Linked DNA regions of Homo sapiens. The protein of the gene in region 2 purifies or fractionates together with the protein of the main gene of each other region. This does not show direct contact. Each region holds a gene or a part of one and is shown on either strand. Other genes may lie near its edges.

Region 1 (5,219 bases), on a different chromosome or scaffold from region 2:
TGTTTGTTCATTTAGCTTTTCTCTTTTCCACCTTCCACAGAAGGCGCTGAAGGGTAATGAATCTTCAAGAATTAAGATTAGATAGAAACCTGAGTAACCAGTCATTTCACAGGCAATAATTGGCTACAGAGTAATGCTGACTTTGTTCTAAGTCAGAAGCTGACTTGGTTATTTACTATAGAACACAAACATCCACAGCCACTAAATGACTTTACTGAAAACTAGCCACATTAAGTATGACATGTAGAGATAACAAAACTACTTTTGAGAACATGGTTTAAAATTCTGAAAAATAAAAGATAAAGATTTTCTTATTTCTAATAGGGGGAAGGGGTTCCTACATTTCCCAGAAGATCAAACAAGAGACCCAAACACAGGATGTAACGACAGCCCTGTACAGCAAGATGCACTTTGCACAGACAACCACAGAGATTGCCTCCACTTCTTTATCCTAAAGTGTTGAGATTTAAATCAATTCAGACACTCTATATACAATTGAGTCTCTTTTCATTTTTAATTTTATTTTTTAAAAAAGACATTGAGGTTATGGTAAGAAATTATGAAGTTACATTTTTTTAATCTGTCAATTGCTACAGTAGTGGAATAAATAAATAAGTTTTTTAAAGTTCAATGTTTATAGACATACTTATAAAAAAATGACTGAATTAGAAGACATTAAATAATGTTGATACACACCAGGAAGGGATTTAGGCAAGGAAAGGCACATCATATTACCACAAGAAATAAAGACCATAGTTGGAGGTTAATGGACAGCCAGAACTTTAGATCTTGTGGTAGGTTTCCCAGCTCTGGAGGGTCATTATGGTGAAACGTTCTTTATAGTACTGGGCTGGAATAAATAAATAGCAGTTGAGGAATTTTACCTTGTAACTGTAATATAATGTAAAAAGAAAGCACACTTTTAATAACCCTGGTATGTGAAGAGGAAAGAAAAAAAATCCAAAACAATTTGGTGGTACTGAAAATCTTACGGAGAGTTAAAAATAATACTAATCCTCGCCCGGCTGAACTGGAATTCTTGCAGTTACAAAGTTAAAATTTCAAGTAAACACTGTATTTTTCACTTTTTGTAGACAGACACAGTGCAGATACAAACAGCTGCCATATCTCACCTCAGATGAAGCTATGTGTCAATGCTTAGGGAAAATGATCTTAGATAATTTCCCAATTTTATAGAGCTTAAATCTTTGAAAACAGCACTAATACTGCTGGTTGACTGGCTATCTACAACAGCAAAGTGAACATAAAGTTTTGACGATGAGAGGTTTCCCAAAGAAACTAATATAGAGTTTTTAGTTGAACAGATACAGTTACTTTAGTTTTACTGAAAAGTCTAACAGACATTAGCACAACTTGTTTTCGGTCACATTCCTACTCCCAATTTTCTTTCATAAATTTGTGTCAAGTCTCTATCCATTTCTTTCTGTCTAGACCTAGATTAGTTTATTTGAAAGATGGCATCGCTTAAAGTAAACCACATAAATTTTAGTGGTATTAAGTGTGTATTTAGTGGTGAATGTGTATAAATAAAATAGATTTTCATAATAAAATGGTATATCCACAAATAAAAATTAAAAACAATTGAGAGGTGGGGAAAATATCAGTATTATTTTAAAAAAATAAAAATGGCAATTGTAAAGCAGGCAGTTTCTTGCTCATGCCACACGATATGCCTTCATTAAGGTGTACTCTTTCCGGTTGGTGTGAGCAGCCCAGATGAAGAGAGCAGAAGCCATGAACTGTAAGGGAGCAGAGACACAAGCCAGGCAGAAGGACCATCCAAATTCACCGGATACATTGTCAGGGAGCTCTAGTTTCTGGTGGAGTAGTTCAATTCCAGCAACATAACAACTTACTGAGCCCAGTGTACACAGACCTTGGGGGAAAATTTAGAAAACAAAACAAAACATGGCTGGATAAAAGCACAGTAAAGAGCTTTTCAGGCAATGTGACAGGGCAGTTAATACGTGAACATTTCAGATTTATAACTCTTTGGTCCCTAAAGAGACAGGAAGAAGCTAAAAGGTAAGTATGATGACAAAACCTACCTGCAAGGAGATGGAGAATGCCCGTGGCAATGGTGGGATATAAGCTTCGGCAAATGCAAGCACAAAGTCCGATCAAAGCCCCAAAGCACATCAAACCTAAACTCACAAAAGGTAAAAGGAACTGGCAACGCCAAAGATCTGATTTTTAAAAAGAGAGAAAAGAAATGTTACCGTGATTTCAGACCATTTTCCCCGCAATGGCAATTTCTTTCATATTCTAATTAGATCTTTTCTCAAAAAGTGTGAAAGTATTTTAACATTGAGGCCTCTTTTCTAAAGCACATTATTCAAAAGGATGCTACTCTTGTCCTGATAAAAGTAAAAGGACACTAACAGGTAGTAGCAATTACTGAGGGTTCACTATGTTCCATGCTATGTTTGTCTACACATTTTCTGTATTAATCCTCCCAACAACCCTAGAAAGTAGGTACAGTCAGCCCTCCATATCTGCAGGTTTCACATCCGCAGATTCAACTAACCAAGGGTTAAAAATATTCAGAAAAAAAAATGATACAAATTTACAAATATATAGTATAACAACTATTTACATAGCATTTATATTGTATTGGGTATTATAAGCAATCTAAAGATGATTTAAAGTATACAGGAGGATTGTGTAGGTTATATGCTAATATTATGCCATTTTATATAAGGTACTTTAGCAACCTTGGAATTAGCAGGGGGTCCTGAATCCAATCCCCCATAGCTACAGCTGTATTATTATTAATTCCATTTTGTAATTAAGGAAACTGAGGCAAGAGTCATAAATAACTTGTAAAAATAACACAGTAAGTGGTAGAGCCAGGATTTGATACAAAAATCAGTCTGACTCTACCTACCAACAATATCTAGGTCTTTATATGATCTAAAGGCAGTAACAACAAGTAAATTAATGGTAATTATAAATGACCTGTCTTATAGGGCTGTTGAAGAATATATATAAAGCACAAAGCAGAGAATCTAAAGGTAGTTTTAATTATCATAAATCTCTCATCAACATGGGAAGAAAACCTGATGACCTCACAAAACATGCCATTCCATTTTCCAATAATATTCATTATTAGAAATGCATTCATATCAATCTTGACTAAACTTTACACCTTTTGGTGCTGGTTTTGCTTTCTGGAACTTCTTATGTGTTTTTCTAACTTACTTTCTTTCAAACTCTCCTAGTAATAAACTGCTTGCTACACATTCTCTTTATAAAACTGAATACCTACCTCTTATTCAACCTTTTCTCTTACAACATGGTCATTCTTCTGGGCAAGTCCCTATAGCCCTGAAAACTGAGGCTCAAATCTGAAGACAGTATTTCATGGGCTGCCTGACCATCAGGGAATAGGTTGTTCCTAATAAATACTTTCATCTTTTTTGACATCTACCCTTTTGTTACTATCACCTAAGACTGGATAAACACTTTTGACAGGCCTGACAACTCACTGACTCATTTAGAGCTTGCAGTAAACTTTTTTCACATATACTTACCTGAACTCAAGCAGTGGAAAGTGTTTAATTCAAATATAGGAATGTATAAGTTATCTCAACTAAATTTCCTTTTACTAAATGGGCCCATTAATAACATCTTTTGAAGGTCTAGATCCCATCATCCAATGAAGTAGTTGGCCCTGTCAACTTCAAATCATTTGAAATTTGGTAAGCATGTATCTACCTTCTAAAATATCAACAGAATAGAGTTCACTGGATACTGTTAGAGATTTTATTTCACGTTGGCACAATCTACTAACTCATCTTATTCCAAAAACATAGTCCAAAAAGAGACAAATAAAATTATCTTTGTTCCCCCAACTGTCCTGGTGAAATCAAAGTACTCACAGGTCCTAAGGAGATCAATCCCGCTATTGTGGTTTCCGGGATCAACAAATTTCTCCATGAACTGCTCAGTTAGTGTGAAACTCACACATTTTGTGACCACATCAAATGACTCTGGAACAAGAACAATTGCCTGTTGTTTTAATTATAAACATTTAACAAAAATCTCTTTCAGTAATTATTCTCTGAAGTAAAACAGTAAAGGATGTTTCCAGAGGGGTCAGCAACTTCTCTGGCCCTGACTGACACACAGGTTTCATAGATGTCCAATGGATGCCACTGGTTCTCAGTGGCAGGCTGAAGACATAGGCACAAGGAAGAAAAATAAAGTGGAAGCAGTAAAATGAATGGCAGAATAGCTATGTAGAAAGCCTAGGAAGAAGGGGAGGGAACAAAGACTGAAATAAATAGGAATGTTGATCTTCTCATGCAACCGTGCTTTATCAACCATATTCCCATCTCAGGGAATGCCAAATCCACACTTCCAGTTCCTCAGACCAGAAACTTTAGAGTAATTCTTGTACATTTACACTCCATCAGGAAATCCCAGGAATTCTTCCTTCAAACTATGTCCAGAATCCAGCTGCTGCTCAGTGCTACCATTCTGGTGTGAGTCATAATCATCACTTAACCTGAATTACTTCTATAACCTCCTAACCATAGTCTTCTAGTTTCCACCTTTGTCTGCTGCCTCTGTTCTCACAACAGCCAGGGTGACCAGATCAGGGCTCAGCACTGTATCTGGAGTCAACACCAAAGTTCTCATTCTGCCTAGAGTCCTCCAGGATTTGCCCCAGTCCCACTCCCAAAGTAGGTCTTTAACAGCATACCCAACTTCCCGTCTCTCCCTCCATTCCAGCCCAGTGGCTTCCTTACTGGTCCTTGAATATTTCAGGCATGCTCCCGCCATAGAGCCTTTGCAGTAGATGTCCTTTCCAACCTAAATGACTTCCTCCCCATTTACCCATATGGCCAACTCTTTTGTCTAGTCTTTAACTACATTCTTTACTCAAGTGGTGTCTTCTCAATGAGACCTACTTTAAGTATCCTATTGAAAATCATAACCTATGGCCACCAATATTCCTTTTCCCACATATTTCCAAATCCCTTTTGTGTTCTATTTTGCCATAGCACATGTCATCTTTTAACATACTGAATAATTATTTATTCTGTTTATACTGTTATATTCTGTTCACTGCCTGTCATCCTTTATTAGAATGCTAGCTCCCCAGGAGTAAGGATTTTGTTCTTTCCTGATGTTCTCCCAGCTAAGAGGCCCTGGAACATGGAGACATGCAATAAATTATTTGTTTAATGAAT
Region 2 (7,284 bases):
TCTTCATTAGCAGCATGAAAACAAACTAATACAATATCCATCACTATCTATGCTGTATATTATGTCCCCAGAACTTGTCTTATAACTGTAAGTTTGTACTGTTTGACTAGTATCTCCTCACTTCTCCCACTCCCCCAGCCTTTGGCAACCACCATTCTACTCACTGCTTCTATGAGTTCAATAATTTTGGATTCCACATATAAGTGAGATCATACAGTATTTTTCTTTTTGTGCCTGGTTGATTTCACTTAGTATAAAGTCCTCCAGGTTTATCCATGTTGTTGTAAGTCAATAGCAAAAACAAAACAAAACAAAACAAAAAACAAAAAAAAACAAATAACCCAACTTAAAAATAGGCAAAGGAACTGAAAATATATTTTTCCAGAGAAAAAGATATGGAATCAACCTACGTGTCTATCCACAGATGAATGGATAAACAAAATGTGAGGGGTATGTGTGTGTGTGTGTGTGTGTTGTGTGTGTACACAATGGAGTATTATTCAGCCACCAGAAGAAGAAAATTTTTAAAGAGTTATTGCAAAAGATTCCTTACTAGTCTTCTAGTTTCTCATTACCCCTACATATTGGCTCGATATTCTCAACACAGTCGCCGTAGCAATTATTTTAAAATGTAAGTCAGATCATATTTTTCCTCTGTTCAAAATCTGAACTGGTGCCACATTTCCCCAGAGTAAAAACCAAAGTCTTAAAACTTTCTAAAAAGTTTAATATAATTTAGTCTTCCCTCATCTTTCTGACTTCATTTTCTATTTCTATCCCCCTTACTAATTCCACTTGGTCTTCTTTCTGTTAGTCAAACATACCAGGTATATTTTCACTGTAGGGTCTTTGCTCTGGCTTTTCCTTCCTTCTGGAAGTCTCCTCCCCTTCCACTGCTTCATGTCCTTCAATATTACCTCGTCAATTGGTCCTACCCTAACCACCCTATTAATACTTGCAGCTGGCCCACCATCATCCCATGATTAGCAATCCAAATCCCCCTTACTATGCTCATTTTTTTTTCTTTCTGTCATGGCACTTTTCAATTTTTAATATCAACAATGTATTCATGCTTATTATTCATTGTTTGTCTTCCCTATGTATAGTGTAAACCTCATGAAGAATTCATTTTGTTCCCTGATTTATCCCAAGCATGCTTAGAATAGTGCCCAGTACATAGTAAGCGATTGATTAACACTTATTGAATGAATAGAGAACTACATGAACGAATAAAATAGATTAATATCCTACTCTCAAGTAGAAGAGACGGCAACCTTCCTTTCTTAAATCCTCTTTCTCAGTCTCCTATTTATACCTCAAAGGACTAACTGGGCTGGGAGGAGGAAGGGATTCTTTGGTAAGGAGGAATAGATAAATACAGCTGGAAAGGTTTTTATTTGAATATTTTAGGGTTTCATTTCTTTGGGTTTTTTCTTTTTTAATTGGCAAGTAAAAATTTATATATTTATGGTGTGAAACCTGATGTTTTGATATATATACACATTGTGGAATGGCTAAATCAAGCTATTTAACATATTCATTACCTTACATTCTTATTTTTGATGGTGAGAATAAAAGATTGTAGATTTTAAGAAACTTTCTATCTTCTTAGTTTGGAGGACTGTGAAATCTTGTGCTGTTGGGAGATTTTAGGGCTTTTGTATTCTCTTTATCACTCTGATTTTTGGTTCGGTAGTGCTTCAATTTGGAAAGTATCTTCTAAACTAAATGAACTAGAGGAGCCAGGAATCAGTACTCAAAAAAGCAGAGGAGAAAGCAAGCTGCTACAAGAAACTCAAGGGAAACAAGAAAAGAGAACTTCAGGGTTTCAGCCCAATTCACTAAATAGGAAAGAGGGCTAAGATTCAAGATCAGTGTTGGAACTAGTAACAAATATTACATTTCATGATAGAGGTGCAAAAATAATGAACCACAGGTATATTCATGATCTAATGTTATGTAACCTATTACCCCCAAATTTTAGTGGTTTAAGACAAGAGTAAGCATTTATTATATCTTATGGTTTCTGTGATTCAGGAATCCAGAAGCAGCTTGATTGGATAGCTCTGGGTCGGGGCTATCATGAAATTCAGTCAGATGTTGGCTGAAGCTACAGTCATCTGAAGGCTTGACTTGGTTGCAGGGTCTGTTCCCAAGATAGATCACTCACATAACTAGCAAGTTGTTGCTATTAGCAGGAGGCCTCAGTTCTTCCCACACAGAGCTAAGATTCAAGACTTCTATGCAAGTCAAGAAATACACACACACACACACACACACACACACACACACACACATAGTGAAGTCTGAATATAAATTAGGAACTGAGCTCTTCTTCTCTCTCCATAGGTATATACATATACATACATATACCTATATACACATAGATATCCTGGAGAATTATTTAGAGAGAGCAATATTTCTACATCAGCTCCCTAGGCCAAGTAAGGTGACCCAATGGACTTCACTTTTCTAAAAAGTGCAGTTATACTTATGTATCTTCTCTTACTATTCATCAAAATACCGACAATATTTTGGGCTGAAATGTTAATAATATCTGTATGAACCTCTGCTTCAAAAAATAATCCAAGGGATCCTTGAGTATTTTTAAAACATGGCATCTGGTTTCCCCAAAATGAGCAACATAAGAAAGCAAAGAATACAAAAGAACAAGGCAGAAGCCATAGTGTATGTCTTTATGATGTAGTTTTCTGCTGTACAGTACTGATCACATGGTCAGCTGTGATTCATTTTGGAAGGGGAGTATGAACAGGTGTGAATACCAGTAGGTAAGGATTCCTAGAGATGTTATCAACATCTCAGCCCGAAATATTGTCGATATTTTGGTGAATATTAAGAGAAGATACATAAGTGTAACTGGACTTTTTAGAAAAGTGAAGTCCATTGGGTCACCTTACTTGGCCTAGGGAGCTGATGTAAAAATACTACTCTCTTTAAATAATCCCCCAGGATATCTATATATATACACACACACACACGGAGAGGAAGTGCTCAGTTCCTAATTTATATTCAGACTTCACTATATATATGTGTGTGTGTGTGTGTATTTCTTGAGTTGTATAGAATACGTACTTATGAATAACAAACTTGACCAATTTTCCTACAGACATAGACTTCTTGCATTTAGCAGTATCACTCACCTCTTACTCCATCATTTCTTCAATAACTCCATCAACACTGAACCTTCTAACTCTAACATGCTACGATTCACTACTGTGAAAAAAAAGCTGATGTCATAAACACATTGTGTTCCAGTATCACTAAGGGCCATACCCCATTCTTAGGTAATCCCTGAGGTCCTACTAGCCTTGCTAGCCTCAAAGGAGTCACTTGGAGTATAAAGAGGGGGAGGAGACTGAACAAAGTCCTGGAGCTATAGTATATTTTTTCATTGTTAATCCTTGGCAAAGAAGTAGGTAGTTTGGAGGTGGAAGTAGGCCATGATTACCTTTAAAATAATCTACTATTATTTGTGTCTTTCCTGAATATCATAGCACCTTCTTGTCACAAATGCTTAGGGGAAAGAAAATCATCCAATATACCCCATATCCCACTTACCAACATCTCTACAGTAAAATGAGACCCAAGAGCATGATTTCCTTAACTAGCTATCAAGCAACTACCTCCAACAAACAGCAGTTATCATTAATATGTTCATGCTATTTTCATTTGTGAGGTCTGTAATCCATCAGAACAACCTGACAGTGATTAAGTAAAATCAAAGAGACTTTGTAAACATCTGTGTGCTTTTATTGTTACAAATGCTTCATTATAAAAAGATCAGTCAAAAGCATAAAAGTACCCTGGTTTAAACTTTTTCTGTGTTTGAATGAGAATGTTTCTCTTGGAACATGCTCATATCAGGCTTCCACTTGGCAAAATCACGAATTGGCTGATGTTGTTTTAGAGGCTTTCTCATGTCCCCTTCCAAACATCACTCTTCTCCTTCTGTGGACCCCTTTCTGTTATCTAGGAGCCCCTCATGCTGCCTTCCACATTCTGCCTACTGCACAGTCATGTTCTGGACCCCTCAGAATCCCCCTCTACCATTACAATATGTTTTTCCTAAGACTTACTTGCATTGAAAGGCTTGCCAGGGAAGTGACTAATCTTATCATCTTGTACTAAATGTTAAATTAATCCTCATTCTCTCTAGAATTGTTTTCTAAGCAGGGATTCCTAGAGATGCTATCAATATCTCAGCCTGAAATTGCATAGGTATTCTGGTGAATAGCAAGAGAAAATAACGTGAGTATAACTGGACCTTTTAGAAAAGTGAAGTCTATTAGGTCACCTTAGTTGGCCTAGGGAGTTGATGTAGGAATGCTCCTCTCCCTGAAATAATCTTCCAGGAGAGGAATGTATCCCCAAATAGCAAGTGAATATCCAATGGCTTCTCATTGCACTTAAACTCTATATTCCTTTTTATGACCAAAAAGGCCTGGCTTCTCCCTAACTGTCTCTTCCTTACACATTACACCTCTTCCTTTTGTATGTGAATGTGCCAAGCTACCACCTCATTTCTACCTTAAGGCCTGAAGTGTTATGTTCCAGTTCTTGGCATGCAAATTACTCTTCATCACTTGTTTCCCGACACAAATGCCACCTTTCCAGACAATCTAAAGTAACCTCAAAATCATTTGCTCGCACATCACTTTGTTTTATTTCTCCTGGTATTAATCACTATGTGAAATTTTCTGGTTCATATTATTTGTCACCTGCTTCTTCCAGGCCTCCTCTTACTTCATTGTCTATCATGTTCATTACCGTATCCCTAGTGTTTTGCACAGAATCTGGTACATATTCAGTGCTCAATAAATATGTGCTAAATGAATAAATGAATAAATTAACCTAAACATAAGTTTTACACTTAAGTAATTGAGCAAGAAGTCTTTGTTGTACTAATATTGGAAAAGGCAGGGGTGGGGGTGGTGACGTGATTATAACCAATGTAACCAGCTTGCATTTATAAGACTTGTATTGATTATGAACTATAGCATTTTTTCGTTAAAAACATTATCAATATTGGATTGTAAAAGATTCCATTGGCCTTTCTGAAAGACTGTCCTTTTGATGAGATGTCACAAATGAATGCTAATGTCCCTTGAGAAATCCTGCCAACAGATCTTATTCTTCTATCAATGTTAAGAAACTGCATTTCTCTTTGGCCAATTTCTAGGCTTATGGATAGTCTCTCTTGCTAGGACTTCAGAAGCCAATGAGCAACTTGCCTGTCACAAGATCCGACGAATGATCTCTCCCTGCATGCGGTGTAGCTAAGCAGAGAAGCAGCTCTTGTAAGAGAATAACCAACACAGCATGGAATATTGCTAAATCTACAGTGTTTTATCCAGCAAAGTTCACCCCAGTAGCCTGCCCCTGCCAATAAAGCCTAGAAATTTTTCCTACCAGGCAGTCCCAGTTTAGTTGGTTGTAGCTTAGAAGCAGACATCTGAGAGCAGTTCAGCAAGCCTGCAGTCAGATGCTTTTGTAGAGCTCTCCTCTTAAAAGGCAAAATTGAGGCAAGTCAATAGATTACAACTTTCTGGGTTTGCTTCTGTCATCTATCAAATATCACAATTCATCCTGCTTCGCTAAAGTGAAACTCCAAGGATTTGTTTTTAAAGGTGTCCTTCTTTCTGTGAAATACTAAATGAACTTGTTTTAAAAAACAAGAACAACTCAACACAAGTTGATAGGAGCTAAGTAACATAACTTTTCCTTTAAGAAAAACATGTAGCATGAGAAAACCTTATTTTTAAAGTACTACATAAAATTTATTGAGACCACATGTCGTAAGAAAGCTTGATTATTAATCCTTCCAGAGAAACTGTTAACACTTAACTGCTATTCTTCAATTATTTCACTATCAAATTAAACTTATTCAAGAAAATACAAATGATTCCATACTGACCTACAAAACAAAAACTTTTTGGTGTTTTGAGGGGACGGAAGAATAAAGGGGAGGTGTCTTTTTCATCAAATCTCTTATATGAGCTCATTTCATCAATCTAATTGTATCTTTTTGTGCTTCTGCCAAGATTATTAATTTCAAGGGTAAGATTTTCTCTGGCTACCATGTACTGTAAAACTGTAAAATTTTTTCCACTCTTCATGGACCATTTACAATCTGCAAGGTTTGGGGTGGGAATGAAATGTATTTCTGCCAATGGATAGCCACATCAGCAGTGCTGAAAACCAATCCTTCTGTTTCACTCATCGTGCCATATGGCTCCATAAAAAAGGAGCGAACCAAAAGTGTAGCTCATACGCCTTGTCAATCTGGGCTTAGACTAATTATTTGATATTATGATAAAGAGAGGAATCTGTTTGTAGGTGAATATATTCTCTCTTCTTTCTTTACTCGTGTATCTCTATACCCATGCGCTAATTTATGGAGGGGGGGAATCAGAGGTTTAAAGCCCCTCTAATTTTACAGGAGCTATAATATTTTAAGAAAAGGCATTGCAATAAAATTGTCATACATAGGTTATAATTTTTAACAACAAAAAGTCCCAGGTGTTTTCATAGTAATGTCTTCTTAAGAATTAAGGATCATGATTTTAAACGCTTTCCAGTAAGTGCTTTGAGTACTCCGGAGCAATTAAAAAGCAAGCTGACGCGCCAAGATAAAGTTGTGTCCCCCTAGTGACCTCTAGAGCGGAGCTAAGCTCCCACAAGCCAGACTTGGGAGGAAAAGCAAAAAGCACGCCAAAGCCTGAGCGCTGCTGTAGTCCAAGCCAATGTATTCAGTAATACCCTTCACCCCTCAGTTCTCATCTGAGTTCCTGTCCTTTTTTATATAACCCCAAAGGCTCAGTAAGTCGCTGCCTCCCAGGTCATTGGGCCCATTGTGTTGAAATCCAACTTCGAACGACGCCCCTTCCTTGCCACCATCCTCAGGTCCAGTTCCCCCGCGCACAGCCTTCCTCACCGCGCATGGTGTCGAGCCCACTTCCACCTCTCTGCAGTGCTGCAGACAACCTCTAGGGCTCTGCGAGTCCCCCAGCGAGAGCTAGGGAGCCGACAAGCTGCGACCTCTGCGAGTCCGCGCTGCGGGAGCGGGTGGCTTGCACCTGCTCCCCGCGCGCCGGCTCTGCGACCCCTAGGCAAGACGCAGCCCAGGAGGCTCCCTCCCGAGTCGCGCCCCGGACCACGCCGCAATGCCTCGTCACCCCAGCAACAAGCTCTTCCTTGTCCTCCCCGCCATCGCTTCTCTCCGCGAACTTTCCAACTTTGGAAGCCCGGGTTCCAAAGGAGCAA

Evidence for each region.
Region 1: the proteins of SLC44A5 (region 2) and CLDND1 purify together in Homo sapiens (affinity purification with mass spectrometry; 2 studies listed by BioGRID and IntAct, with this or other methods). This does not show direct contact.

The regions. Positions count from the first base shown.
Region 1 is NC_000003.12:98,514,983-98,520,201, forward strand, and holds the end of CLDND1 (claudin domain-containing protein 1), read right to left. Parts: intron 4,014-5,219; coding exon 3,903-4,013; intron 2,208-3,902; coding exon 2,070-2,207; intron 1,898-2,069; coding exon 1,677-1,897; 3' UTR 501-1,676; downstream 1-500. UniProt on the Homo sapiens protein: Plays a role in negatively regulating the permeability of cells to small molecules.
Region 2 is NC_000001.11:75,607,879-75,615,162, forward strand, and holds the start of SLC44A5 (choline transporter-like protein 5), read right to left. Parts: upstream 3,237-7,284; 5' UTR 3,162-3,236; intron 1-3,161.